Linked DNA regions of Homo sapiens: all the other regions are linked to region 3. The links come from fine-mapping of genetic effects on gene expression. A gene starts in region 3. Each other region holds a variant in brackets. All regions are shown on one strand. Distances are between the middles of the regions.

What was found. PIP is the estimated chance that this variant, and not a neighbour inherited with it, causes the effect.
Region 1: its variant is the best candidate, but not a certain one, in a credible set for the expression of AXIN1 in NK cells (Gilchrist 2021, PIP 0.63).
Region 2: its variant is the best candidate, but not a certain one, in a credible set for the expression of AXIN1 in hypothalamus (GTEx, PIP 0.63).

The regions. Positions count from the first base shown.
Region 1 is chr16:292,556-296,704 of GRCh38, forward strand. It overlaps AXIN1 (axin 1), which reads right to left. Exons shown (of 11, transcript NM_003502.4): 8 at 933-1,163. Among named protein-coding and RNA genes, the nearest start is that of PDIA2, 11 kb to the left of the region's middle. The variant C/CA (reference allele first, on the strand shown) is at 1,905.
Region 2 is chr16:827,260-831,408 of GRCh38, forward strand. No RefSeq gene overlaps it. Among named protein-coding and RNA genes, the nearest start is that of GNG13, 29 kb to the left of the region's middle. The variant C/T (reference allele first, on the strand shown) is at 1,774.
Region 3 is chr16:350,360-354,508 of GRCh38, forward strand. It overlaps AXIN1 (axin 1), which reads right to left and starts at 2,364. Exons shown (of 11, transcript NM_003502.4): 1 at 2,010-2,364. RefSeq lists silencers at 1,583-1,642, 1,653-1,722, 1,743-1,792, 2,073-2,152, 2,253-2,732 and 1 more.

The DNA of each region.
Region 1 (4,149 bases), 58 kb before region 3:
AGGCCCCAGGTGACCCAAGGTGGACAGGAGGAGCTGGTGACCTCTGAAGGCAACCATGGCCTCTGTGACCACAGCCCCAGGGCCTGGGTGAGCTATAGGCTCCCAGGACCCTCAAAGAGACACTGATCTGTGGGGAATTCCAATGACCCAGGATGGCCGAGAAAACTGGCCTTATGAGCAAGCTGAAAATGGAGAAGCCAGGTTCTGGCCTGGAGCGAAAATGCTGCCCACACAAAGGGGAGACCTCCCTGCAGCCCAGACAGAAGCCTCCCTGCCCTAGGGAGAGAACAGGGTCTGGCTACGGAGCCCAGAAGACCAAGGAGGGCGCAGTGAGGAGGGCTGTGGGCTGGACGTCCCGGATGAGAGAAGGGCACAGTGAGGAGGGCTGTGGGCTGGACATCCAGGATGACAAGAGGACACAGCGAGGAGGGCTGTGGGCTGGACGTCCAGGACGACACTTCTACATCTGCACGGCTTTCAGAACCACGTAGCTTTCCGACCGTGCAGAGCCACTCAGGGCTCCTGGGACGCAACTGTCAAGAGGCAGCCGCCATGCCTCCAGGACCTCTGCCCTAAAGCCCAGGCTGCCCAGCAGCGAGCAGCCTCTGGCTGGGGACCGGCGTTCCCCACACACTGGGGCCCTGCAGCCTCCCTGCAGACTGGGCTCAGGTTGAGGAGGGACCCCGCCTCCAGAGCAATGAGCGCGGCGGCCTCGGGTGTGTGAAAGCTCCAGCCCCAGCCTCCGTCCACCGCAGGGTGGCCTGCCACGTGGCCCCTCAGTGGTTCTCAGTGGATGGAAGGGCCCAGTATGGCTGGGGGACACCCAGAGGGCCGTTTTTCCCCTGAAGACCTCAGGCCTCGGGGAGCTTCAGCCCCAGGAGTGGTGCTGTGGTAACCCCCAAGACCCACCCCACCCCACGACGCGGCCGTACCTCTGCTTGGAGGGTGCTCGGCTGGCTCTCTTTTCTTCCTCCTCCAGACGTCGGCGCGCCTCCTCCAGCTGGGTTAGGGGGTTGGGAGCTGGGTGGGGTGGCATGGTGGGGTCTTGGATGAAGAGGTGGGAGGGCTGCACGGAGGTCCGGAGCTGAGGGCCGGCCCAGGGGTGCTCAAGGGACAAGGGTCTGGAGTTCTCATGGGGCTGTGGCTTCCTCGTCCCCGAAGACCTTGGGGAACAAGAGAACAAGTTGTGACTGTGGCCGACACCCTGGCCAGGTGGCCTGGTGGGGCTACACTCATCTCACAAGGGCAGCCTCCTTGAGGGATAGGATGGGATGGGGCACTGGGGCCTGGCCACCAAGCCACATGGACGTCCTCCACAGACCACACAATAAAAACATCCCGGCCAGGCATGGTGGCTCACACCTGTAATCCCAGCATTTCGGGAGGCCGAGGCGGGCAGATCACCAGAGGTCGGGAGTTCGAGATCAACCTAACATGGTGAAACCTCATCGCTACTAAATATACAAAATTAGCTGGGCGCCTGTCATCCCTGCTACTCTGGAGGCTGGGGCCCGAGAATGGCTGGAACTGGGGAAGTGGAGGTTACAGTGAGCCGGGATCACGCCACCGCACTCCAGCCTGGGTGACAGAGTGAGGCTCAGTCTCAGGAATAAAAAAGACAACAAAAAACCAACCCTCATTTGCCTGTAATCCCAATACTCTGGGAGGCCAAGGTGGGTGGATCGCCTGAGGTCAGGAGTTCAAGAACAGCCTGGCCAACATGGCAAAACCATGACTCTACTCAAAAAATACAAAAAATTACCCAAGTGTGGTGGTGGATACCAGTAATTCTAGTTACTCGGGAGGCTGAGGCAGGAGAATCGCTTGAACCTGGGAGGCAGAGGTTGCGGTGAGCTGAGATTGCACCACTGCACTCCAGCCTAGGCAAGAGTGAGACTCCATCT[C/CA]AAAAAAAAAAAAAAAAAAAAAAAATGGCCAGGCGCGGTAATCCCAGCACGCTGGGAGGCCGAGGCGGGTGGATCATCTGAGGTCAGGAGTTCAAGACCAGCCTGGCCAACATGGTGAAACCCTGTTTCTACAAAAATACAAAAAGTTAACTGGGCATAATAGTGGGTGCCTGTAATCCCAGCTACTCAGGTGGGTTAGACAGGAGAACCACTTGAACCTGGGAGGTGGAGGTTGCAGTGCGTTGACACTGGCCTGTTGCACTCCAGCCTGAGCCACAGGAGCGAAACCCCATCTCAAAAAAAAAAAAAAAAAAAAAAAAAGGCCAGGCGCGGTGGCTCACGCCTGTAATCCCAGCACTTTGGGAGGCTGAGGAGGGCGGATCACGAGGTCAAGAGATCGAGACCGTCCTGGCTAACACGGTGAAACCCCACCTCTACTAAAAAAATACAAAAAATTAGCCGGGCGTGGTGGCGGGCGCCTGCAGTCCCAGCTGCTCTTGAGGCTGAGGCAGGAGAATGGCATGAACCCGGGAGGCGAGGCTTGCAGTGAGCTGAGATCAGGCCACTGCACTCCAGCCTGGGCAACAGAGCAAGACTCCGTCTCAAAAAAAAAAAAAAAAAATTCTTTCATGGAGACTTTTTTTTTTTCTTTTTTTGAGACAGAGTTTTGCTCTTGTTGCCCAGGCTGCAGTGCAATGGCTCGACCTCGGATCTCGGCTCACTGCAATCTCCGCCTCCCAGGTTCAAGCGACTCTCCTGCCTCAGCCACCGAGTAGCTGGGATTACTGGCACTCGCCACCACACACGGCTAATTTTTTGTATTTTTTTTAGTAGAGATGGAGTTTTTGTCATGTTGGCCAGTCTGGTCTCGAACTCCGGACCTCAAGCGATCCACCTGCCTCGGCCTCCCAAAGTGCTGGGATGAGGCTTCTTTTTTTACATTTTATTTTTAACAGCTTTACTGGGATACAAATTATATACTAATCCTAGAGGCCGGCGGATAGCTTTGAGTCCAGGAGGCTGAGACTGCAGTGAACGGTGTGATTACACCACTGCACTTCAGCCAGGGTGACAGAGGGAGACTCTGTCGCAAAAAATTAAAAAAAAAGTCTTAATGAATAAAAAGTATAAGTATGTCTCAAAGTGGAATGTATTAATACTTATCCTAAAATATGGGACATGCAATATTTAGTATATACAGCTATTTAAAAAAAGGATTCGGCCGGGCACGGTGGCTCACGCCTGTAATCCTAGCACTCCAGGAGGCCGAGGCAGGCGGATCACCAAAGGTTGGGAGTTCGAGATCAGCCTAACATGGCAACCACCCCCTGCCCCGGTCTCTACTAAAAATACAAAAATCAGCCGGGCGTGGTGGCTCACGCCTGTAATCCCAGCTACTCGGGAGGCTGAGGCAGGAGAATTGCTTGAACCCAGGAGGTGGAGGTTGCAGTTAGCCAAGATTGCACCACTGCACTCCAGCCCGGGCGACAGAGCTAGACTCCGTCTCAAAAAAAAAGACTCGAAGGCCAGGAATGGTGGCTCATGCCTGTAGTCCCAGCATTTTGGGAGGCCAAGGTGGGAGGATCACTTGAGCCCAAAAGCTTGAGACCCAGCTGGGCAACACACTGAGACCCCCTCTACAAAAAATGAGCCAGGCAAGGTGCTGTGCACCCCTGTTCCCTCGGGAGCCCCAGAAAAACGATGAGCCCGTCCCCACCTCAGTCAGCACCGATGGGGACCCCAAGGCCTTGCGGGACAGGCTTCCAACACAGGCAGGAGGGCCACGCCCCAGGCGCTCAGCTGCCTCACAAGTTCTCATCAAGTAATGTGGAGGGAGATGCGTCCTGGCCAGGGCCTGGGTGAGGGTGGGGGGCAGATCAGGACCTAAGTCTGAGGAAGCTGGGGCCATCCACCCACCAGGGCCAACACTTCCCAGCTGACCTGCCTCTGACCACGACAGGAAGGTGGGGGGTACCACCTCTGTGGGGCCCCTGGCCCTCCTGCTGGGTTCCGGGCACGAGTGCAGGCCCAGGGGGCGAGCAGGAGCAACACCAAGACCGGCCCGGCGGGCAGCGGCAGGGGCTGGACCTGTGGCGCCGGGGCCTTGCTCCACACCACACACGAGGCCTCTGCCCTTCTGGGAGGAGAGAAGTGCTCACGCTACACAAGAGCCTTCCCCAGCCCTCAGCAGGACGGCCAGGTGTGAGCACAGAAGGCTCCTCCGTGGGCACCTCGGGAGTGATGG
Region 2 (4,149 bases), 480 kb after region 3:
TCGCTTCCAGGCCTCAGACCTGGTGCTCTCCCCACCTGCCTGACCCCGTCGCTTCCAGGCCTCAGACCTGGCTTCGCGTCTGTTTTCTGAAGCACCTCTGCTCCGCTCCCCGAGTCTGTCTCATGGGTTTCGCCGCCTGATTCTTGGGCGGCCCCTTGCAGGCTGTGGTCTTCCGTGCAGGTTGGTCTCCCAGTGGTTGCAGAGCTGGTTCTGGTGGAACCCCTGCCCTTGGGCTGCACTCGGGAGGTGCCAGTCACTGTGCCCAGGGATTTCACGGACCTGCTTGTCACTACGCTCCCCGGAGTCACCCCAGGGATTCTGGGAGGGTCCCTGTTGCACAAACAAGGAAACCGAGACACAGGACGGAAAACGGGCCACGGAAAACGGGCCGGCCTCTGCTGCCTGGGTTGTGATGAAGGCCTCGGGAAACGGGCCGGCCTCTGCTGCCGGGTTGTGCTGGAGGTCTCAGGGTAGCTGTGGAAGCTGCACGTGTCACCTTATGTCATGGCTGCAACGGCACGCAATGCACGCACAACATGTGTGCAGACACAACACACACACAATACACGCGCATACACAGACACTCGCTGCCAGGCACAGGAACACACCCCTCCCCTCATGCCACACACGTGACGACTGGAGCCCGGACGTGCGTCCTGGGGGGACCCTGCTGTTTCTCTCTTTGCCCCACTGTGTCCTGGGAGAATGTGCTCCAGGAACCTTGCAGCAGACAGGACCTGGAAGGGTGTCTGTCCCAGGCCCGGGGAACAGCCCAGCTCAGGCCTGGGGCGCGGGCAGCCAGGCAGGGGTCTGGCCCAGTCCTAGCCAGGGGAAATGAACTCTCGGCCTCCAGGGTATGGCTGGGGCCTCCGTGCCTGGACCCAGGTCAGACGAGTCACTCACGCATCCCGAAATCCTGCCAGAGGCTGGAAGCCAGGTGCATTAAATGTGCTGAGATTTACGCGCCCAGGGCACTGGGGACCTGAACCAACAGTTTGTTCAAAAGCAGACACCTGCCTACAACAGGGTTGTTGTAAAGCTGGATTCAAACACTGAGACTTGTGCGATGAAATGGACCCAGGGTTTGTGTTTCAGGCCTGAGGTTGGAGGCAGGAGGCAGGGAGGGACGCTGGGCCGAGGCCTCGTCTCCTGGAGGCTCTGACCCCACTGGTGCAGGGTGGCGTGTGGGCAGGGGCACCTCGGGAGGGGAGGTTTGACGTGGAGCACGGGAGCCGCTTTGGGTGGGAAGACCGAGGCCTGAGGGGCACTCAGGACTCTCTCTATCCTCGGGCTCTGTGAGCTAGAGTGGGGAATGGGGGGAGTGGACCGGGAGCCTCTGGGCGGCCGACAATGGGAAGGCCCCTGACCTGGGAGTCTGGGGGCCATCACTGTGGCAGCCCCATGCCCTCTGGGAAGGTCCTCTGCTCTCTGGGTGGGGTCCGTGGGACTGTGTTATGAGCAGGCCCCTGATGGCGGGTGGGGTCCTGTCCCTCCGTTCCTACCCAGCCACGGGTGGCAGTTCTGTCTTCCTCCTGCATCAGCCGACAGCCCCTTCCCAGGAGCTCTGAGTCCGCCTGCTGCTCCGGGGCCGCTGGGGTGAGGACGGGGTGAAGAGGCGCGGCCCTGTCTATACCAGCACCGCCACTGCCCACTGGGGCCCACATCCCGCCCACTGGGACCGACATCCCGCCCACTGGGGCCCACATCCCGCCCACTGGGGCCCACATCCCGCCCACTGGGGCCCACATCCCACCCACGGCGGCCAGGGACAGA[C/T]GTCCTTCCTGTGTCTTGTGTCCCTTCACCACTACCAGCCCGGCACGTCCTTTGCCCATTCTCACTCCGACACTGACCTGAGATGGGGCTGCCCCACACCCGGGCACACACCCGGGCACGCACCTGGGAAGGCCTGGATCCTGTTGGCTGGGAAGAAGTGGGCAGGTGGGCTGTGGAGTGGGCAGTGCTGTTTGCATTGCTGCTGATCAGAGGTGCCTCCTGCTGCTGTGTGAGGAGGCCGGGCCTCCCCGGAGTCTCTACGAGGTGCTCTCAGAGAGATTCGAGGGGCCCCGGGCCTCTGGCTTCTGTGTGGGGTGATGTGGGAGGTTGGGGAATGGAAAAGCCTTCTCCCTCCCCCCATCATTAGGAAAGAAAAACAGTTTCCATGGGGCCAAGTTTATTTTATTTTATTTATTATTTTGAGGCAGAGTCTCCCTCTGTCGCCCAGGCTGGAGTGCGGTGGTCCGATCTCAGCTCACTGCAACCTCCACCTCCTGGGTTCACGCAATTCTCCTGCCTCAGCCTCCCGAGTGGCTGGGATTACAGGTGCCCGCCACCACGCCCGGCTAACTTTTTTTGTATTTTTAGTAGAGATGGGGTTTTGCCATGTTGGCCAGGTTGGTCTCGAACTCCTGACCTCAGGTGATCCATCTCCTTCGGCCTCCCACAGCACTGGGATGACAGGTGTGAGCCACCACCCCCGGCCGGTGTTAACTGATTTTAAAGTGCACGCTTGGGCGGCGTTCAGCACATTGCAGTGTCAGGCGGCCCTCACCTCTCTCTAGTCCTGAATGTCCTCATCACCCCAAAAGGAAACCCTGTCTCCATCAGCACTGGCTCACCACCCTTTCCCAAGCCTGAGAGCCTCCACGACTCTCTGGCTTGGCCTGTTCTGGATGTTTCGTAGAAATGGGATCAGACACTGTGTCCCTCTGAGCCTCCGTCGCTCGAGGTCCTGCCTCAGGTTTCATCCCGGTGTGGTGTGTGCTGGGGCCTCCTTCCTTCTTGTGGCTGAGTGGCGCTCTGTGTGTGGCCAGCCTGTGTGTGGTTTGTGGCTCATCTGTGAGTGGATGCCAGGCTGCTGGGCTGCTGGCCTGCATGTGGTTCGTGGCTCGTCTGTGAGTGGACGCTGGGCTGCTGGGCTGCTGGGCTGCTGGGCTGCTGGGCGCAGTGCGTGAGATGCTGTGGTTGTCCATGCACCGGCTCTTGTTGGACAGAGGTTTTTGTGGTGCCTGGACGTGTACCCAGGAGTGGTGTTGTGGGAGGTGTTGTGGGTGGTGCTGTGGGCGTTGTGGCCTCGGGCGGGATGGCGTTTGGTTCACTGCGTTTCCCGGCCGGCGTCTCCTTCTGTCATGAAATGCTCAGTGCCCACGCACGGTCCATACTGGGGTTTGGTACCGTCCACCTACGGATTAAAAACGTTCACGGATATCTGCTTTCAAAACACCCAGGCCGGTCTTGTCGGCAGAGCCGGTCTCAGGCCACCTCCTCTTTTCCGAGGTAGGTGAGACTCTGGGAAGGGAAGGAGCGAAGGAGGCAGGCTTGGAGCCTTGACCACAGGGAGGAGGGGAACCTGCTCCTGGATGCGCCGGAGCCCAGCCCGGCTTGTGGAACGAGGCTGCAGGAGCCTGAGATCGGGGACTGCCGGGCCTGCGCCACGGAGGGTCCCCAGGGGGACGGGACAGCCTTCCTGCCTCTTCCAGCCCCTGGCGCTCAGCTTTGCCTTAGCTGTGGCCTCATAACTCCAGCCTCTGCCTTGGTCGTCATGGCCGTGTCTTCTGACTTTGGATTTAGGGTCCGTCTTGATCCGGTATGACCGCATCTCAATGACGTCGGCAAGGACCCTGTTTCCAGGCAAGGCAGCTTTTTGATATTTGAGTGGTCGGAGGCACTGTTTAGCCACCTTGCTGCCTCCTCGTAGGACTGAAGGGCATTTTTCCCTTGAGCAGGAGACTCCACACACGCGGACACTGACGTTGAGCCGCAGGGCTGGTCACTGTCCCCGTCCCGTGGCACCGCACGCCAGGGCCCGGCACCTTCTGCCGTGGGTCACGTGGCCTTGGGTCCGGCCCCTGCCAGAGGCTGGGGCCCCAGGGACCCCTCTGGGCTAGAAGGTGCTGCTGACACAGGCGTTTTTAGATAAGCAGGAAGCTCCTGAGAGGAAGCTTTATTTTTACTTTGTTCCGGCCTCTGTGGTTTTTGGAGATGGCCTTTAAAGATTTGTTTTCGATTTTATCTTTAAAGAAGATGCAGGAAAGCCCATGGGTCAGGCTCCAGAAGAAATATCCGGGAGGAAGGCCCTGAGCCTGGGACGGCGGGGCCAGGAGGAGGCCCCTGAGCCTGGGAGTGTAGGGCAGGGGCTGCAGGGATCCCAGG
Region 3 (4,149 bases):
GCCTGCAAGCACTGAATCTGGCCCACAGCCTGTAGCTACCATCAATAAAGTGAGTCCATAAAACGGGCGGGATGCCTACAAGTATGATACTGTATTTAAAATTCCCTTTCGTCACCGCTTAGGCATATGCTCCAGGCATCATGGCAGCAAACTCAATGCTACCTACGTGTGTAGGTATTTATTTTACCCAAACGTAACTTTTGACATTTTGATTTACATGGAGGAGGCAAGTAACACAACACGACTCTGACATCTTCCCAGCTGTCCATTGATTTAACTCTTGAAGGTTCAGGGCTACTATTTCACATGTAATTTATTCCCCCATCACTGAAATTCTCAATGACCAATGTAATCCGAAAAAGTCTGCTTAGCTTTTCTGAAACTAGAAACCCAAGACAAGTCAACACCAGCTGAAAATCAAACAAAAACAGTCTGTTTTTCATGCTTTCCCATCCTTGTCCCTGAATGGAGATCTTAAAACTGAAACCAAAGCCAGGTGAGGTGGCTCACGCCTGTAATCCCAGCACTTTGGGAGGCCGAGGTGGGCGGATCACCTGAGGTCGGGAGTTCAAGACCATCCTGACCCACATACAGAAACCCCATCTCTACTAAAAATACAAAATTAGTCAGGCTTGGTGGCGCATGCCTATAATCCCAGCTACTTGGGAAGGCTGAGGCAGGAGAATCGCTTGAACCTGGGAGGCGGAGGATGCGGTGAGCGGAGATCACGCCATTGGACTCCAGCCTGGGCAACAAGAGCAAAACTCTGTCTCAAAAAAAAAAAAAAACTGAAACCGAGCTATTGCTGAGTATCTCGGGTAGCCGGTTTAGACTGTGTTTTCTCCAAAATAGGGCCTGTGGATCCAAGTAAGCTCGAGATTCTTCCTGAAGAAGCAGAGAACAGAAGTGTGAGCAAAAACAAGGGGCTGACATGCACATAAGAACCCTTTATAAATTATCTTAGAAGGGGCCAGGCGCGGTGGCTCACGCCTGTAATCCCAACACTTTGGTAGGCCAAAGTGGGCAGATCACCTGAGGTCAGGAGTTCCAGGCCAGCCTGGTCAACATGGTGAAACCCTGTCTCTACTAAAAATACAAAAATTAGCCGGATGTGGTGGCGCATGCCTGTTATCCCAGCTACTCAGGCGGCTGAGGCAGGAAAACTGCTTGAACCCGGGAGGCGGAGGTTGCAGTGAGCCAAGATAGCGCCACTGCACTCCAGCCTGGGCTACAGTGCGAGACTCCGTCTCAAAAAAAAAAAATTATCTTAGAGGACGGTGGTCACCCCTGTAGTCCCAACACCTTGGAAGGCTGAGGCAGGTGGATCGCTTGAGGCCAAGAATTCAACACCTGCTGGGCAATATAGTGACACCCCATCTCTACAAAAAATATATATATATATATCTTATAGATGGGCTGAGAAAAATCCCCAGAGAACTGACATGTTTTTCTCTACTTTCTTCAATGCCAAGCTGAAAGTTTCACTGCTCGGGCAGTGCAGCTCTGGTTTCACGGGGGCTAAATTCCAAAGTGCGGGGCGGGGGTAGAATCTAAGAACCACACCCAAGAGAAAGACCAGTGTTTGGGCAGCAAGGCATCAACCTGGAGGGTACGGACGCCGGAGCACGCGGCTACTCAGGCCGAACCCCGACCCGGACCCGGCACGCGGCCTCGGCGAGGGCGGGCGGGAGTGTCCTCCTCCGGGACAGCCGGACTCCCGCCGACTTCTGGGCGGCGGGGAGGGCTCCAGGCCCGGCTCTCCCGGGCCCCCGCACGCGATGCGCGGCCCCTGCAGCTGCTCCGTGCCCCGAGACGCGCCCGAGGCCTCGGACCTCCAAGCGGCCACCGCGCCGCCAGTCCCGCTGCCCAGGGACACCCCGGCCCCAGCTCCCCGCGCGCCCACCCCCTCGGTCCCACGCGCGTCAGCCACCCGCGCCCCCCGCCGCTTCCGGGTCCCGCCCGCCCGGCCTACCGCGGCCTAGCCCGCCCCGGAGCCCGGCCCTACTCACCCGCGCGCGGTGGTGGCGGGACCCCGGGCCCGGCTCCCGGAGCGGCGCGGCGCGGTCCGGGCCCATGCGCTCAGCGGCAGCGCGGCGGGCGGGACCCGGCGGGGGCGCGGCCCGGGGCGGCCCCCATCTCGGCGGCTGCGGCTCGGCGGCCCGGAGGCGGACGCGGGGCAGGCCGCGGGGGCGCCGCAGGGGCCCAGCCGCCAGCTCCCACCCGCCCGCTCCGCGTGGACGCGGCTCCGGGCCGACTCCGGCCGGCTCTGGCGGCGGCAGCGGCCACGATCGCCTCCCGAGCCAGAGCCCGAGCCAGAGCGCCGAAGCCCAGGCCCGAGCGCCCCCGCCGGCGGCGTCCGGAAGTGCGGGGGCGGGGCCGGGGCGCGGGGACGAGGTGAGAGCGCGGGGCGGGGCCTCAACACGGGGCGGGGCCGGCAGCGCGGGGACGAGGTAAAGGGTGTGGGGCGGGGCTTCAGGCGCGGGGCGGGGCTGAAAGCGCGAGGATAAAGTGAGGAGCGTGGGGCGGGGCCGACAGCGAGGGGACAGGTGAGGAGCGCGGGGCGGGGCCGGGGCGTGGGCGGGGCCGGAAGCGAGAAGACGAGGTGAAGAGCTCGGGGCGGGGCCTCGGGCGTGGGGCGGGGACCAGGGAGTAAGGCGGGGCCCGCCTCGAGCAGAAGAGGTAAAGAGCGTGGGGCGGGGCCTCCGGCGCGGGGCGGGGCCGGAAGCGAGAAGACGAGTTGAGAAACATGGGCCGGGGTCTCTGCATGGCCGGGAGAGGGCGTGGTCAGTGCCTGCCGGGGGCGGGGCGTGCCGGGGGCGCGGTCGCGCCGTCTTCCCGAGGGGCGGTGCGGAAGCGGAGCCCGGGAGGCTTTGGCTTCCCAGAGAGCGGAGTGGGAGAGGCGGCGTTGCAGGTCCTTGGAATGGCCGCGGCCGTGGGGAGCACTGGGCGGACTGCGCGCCCCGAAGGGCGCACGTGGGGCGCAGCCCTTTTCTGCCGCCAGTACATCGGAGGGCAGTCAGGGGGCTGCAGGCCTCGGGGCTCCCTGCCCAGCCGGCCCTGGAGAGGAGGCCCTCGTGGGGACCGCCACGGCCTGCCCGCCGCCGTGAGGGAAGCAGGCTCCCAGGAGTGGGGTGGTCGGCAGGCAGGGATGGCCAGGGCCCTTGGAAGGTGGGGTGGGCTCCACCCTCCTGAGTCCCAAGGCAGCCTGGACTCACAGCGCCAGGGAACACGTTAGGCCCCAATATATGGTGGCTCTCACCCGGACAGGAGCCACAACCTCCAAAGAGCCCACCGGCTAGGACCCTCTGCCTTGATTTCTCCCAGGCACCATCTAGTATCAGAGAAGGGTTCTCCTTCCCTCCGCTGCCCAGGCCAGCCCGAGAGCAAGGCCATTGGAGTGTCCAGACCCCTGCACCCCTTCCCCTGGGCTGTCTCCACAGCGGCCCTGCCAAGGGGTCCAGTCCGATCCTGCCACCCTGGCTGCCCAGATCCGTGTCACTTGCCCTGCAGGCCACAGAGCATGAGGTCACAGCCCCAGGCACCCCACGGCAGAGAGGCACGGGCCCCCAGCAGCAGCCCCAGCACCAGCTCTGGCCAGCCCAACCCTGTCAGAACCAACCCTCTGCTCTCCACCCAGGCCTCAGCCAACCATCAGGCCCTCCCCAAGGAGGAGGATGTGAGTACCAGGATCTGCCGCCTCCCACAACAGCCCAGGGCCCTGTCCTTCCCAGAGCACTATTGGGCCTGGCACCTCCCGGGATGCTCCAGGCAGCCCCCTGGGGTCAGCTATACCCCCGTTTCACAGAGGAGACAGCTGCAGTTCAGGCCACACAGGACCAGCTCGCCTCCTGTTGGGTGAGGGCTCCCCACCTCGTCCGCCCCACACCTGAGACAACAGCCCTCATCTATCTGCCCTCTGCTTTAGGCCTCCCAGGGCTCCCTGCTGCCCACAGCCCTTCAGGGCCCTTCCTAAGGGCGCCTCCCCCACACCTTCCCCTAGATGCGTCTGGCCACTTGCCCGCCTCCGTGCTTCCGTGTCCATCATGTCCATACCTGCCAGCTCCCTCCAGGCACCTCTCACGTCACCCCCATGTCTTTCCCTGGGCTGTGTCACCCTGGATGCCCAGCCTCACCCTTCAGAGCTCCCAG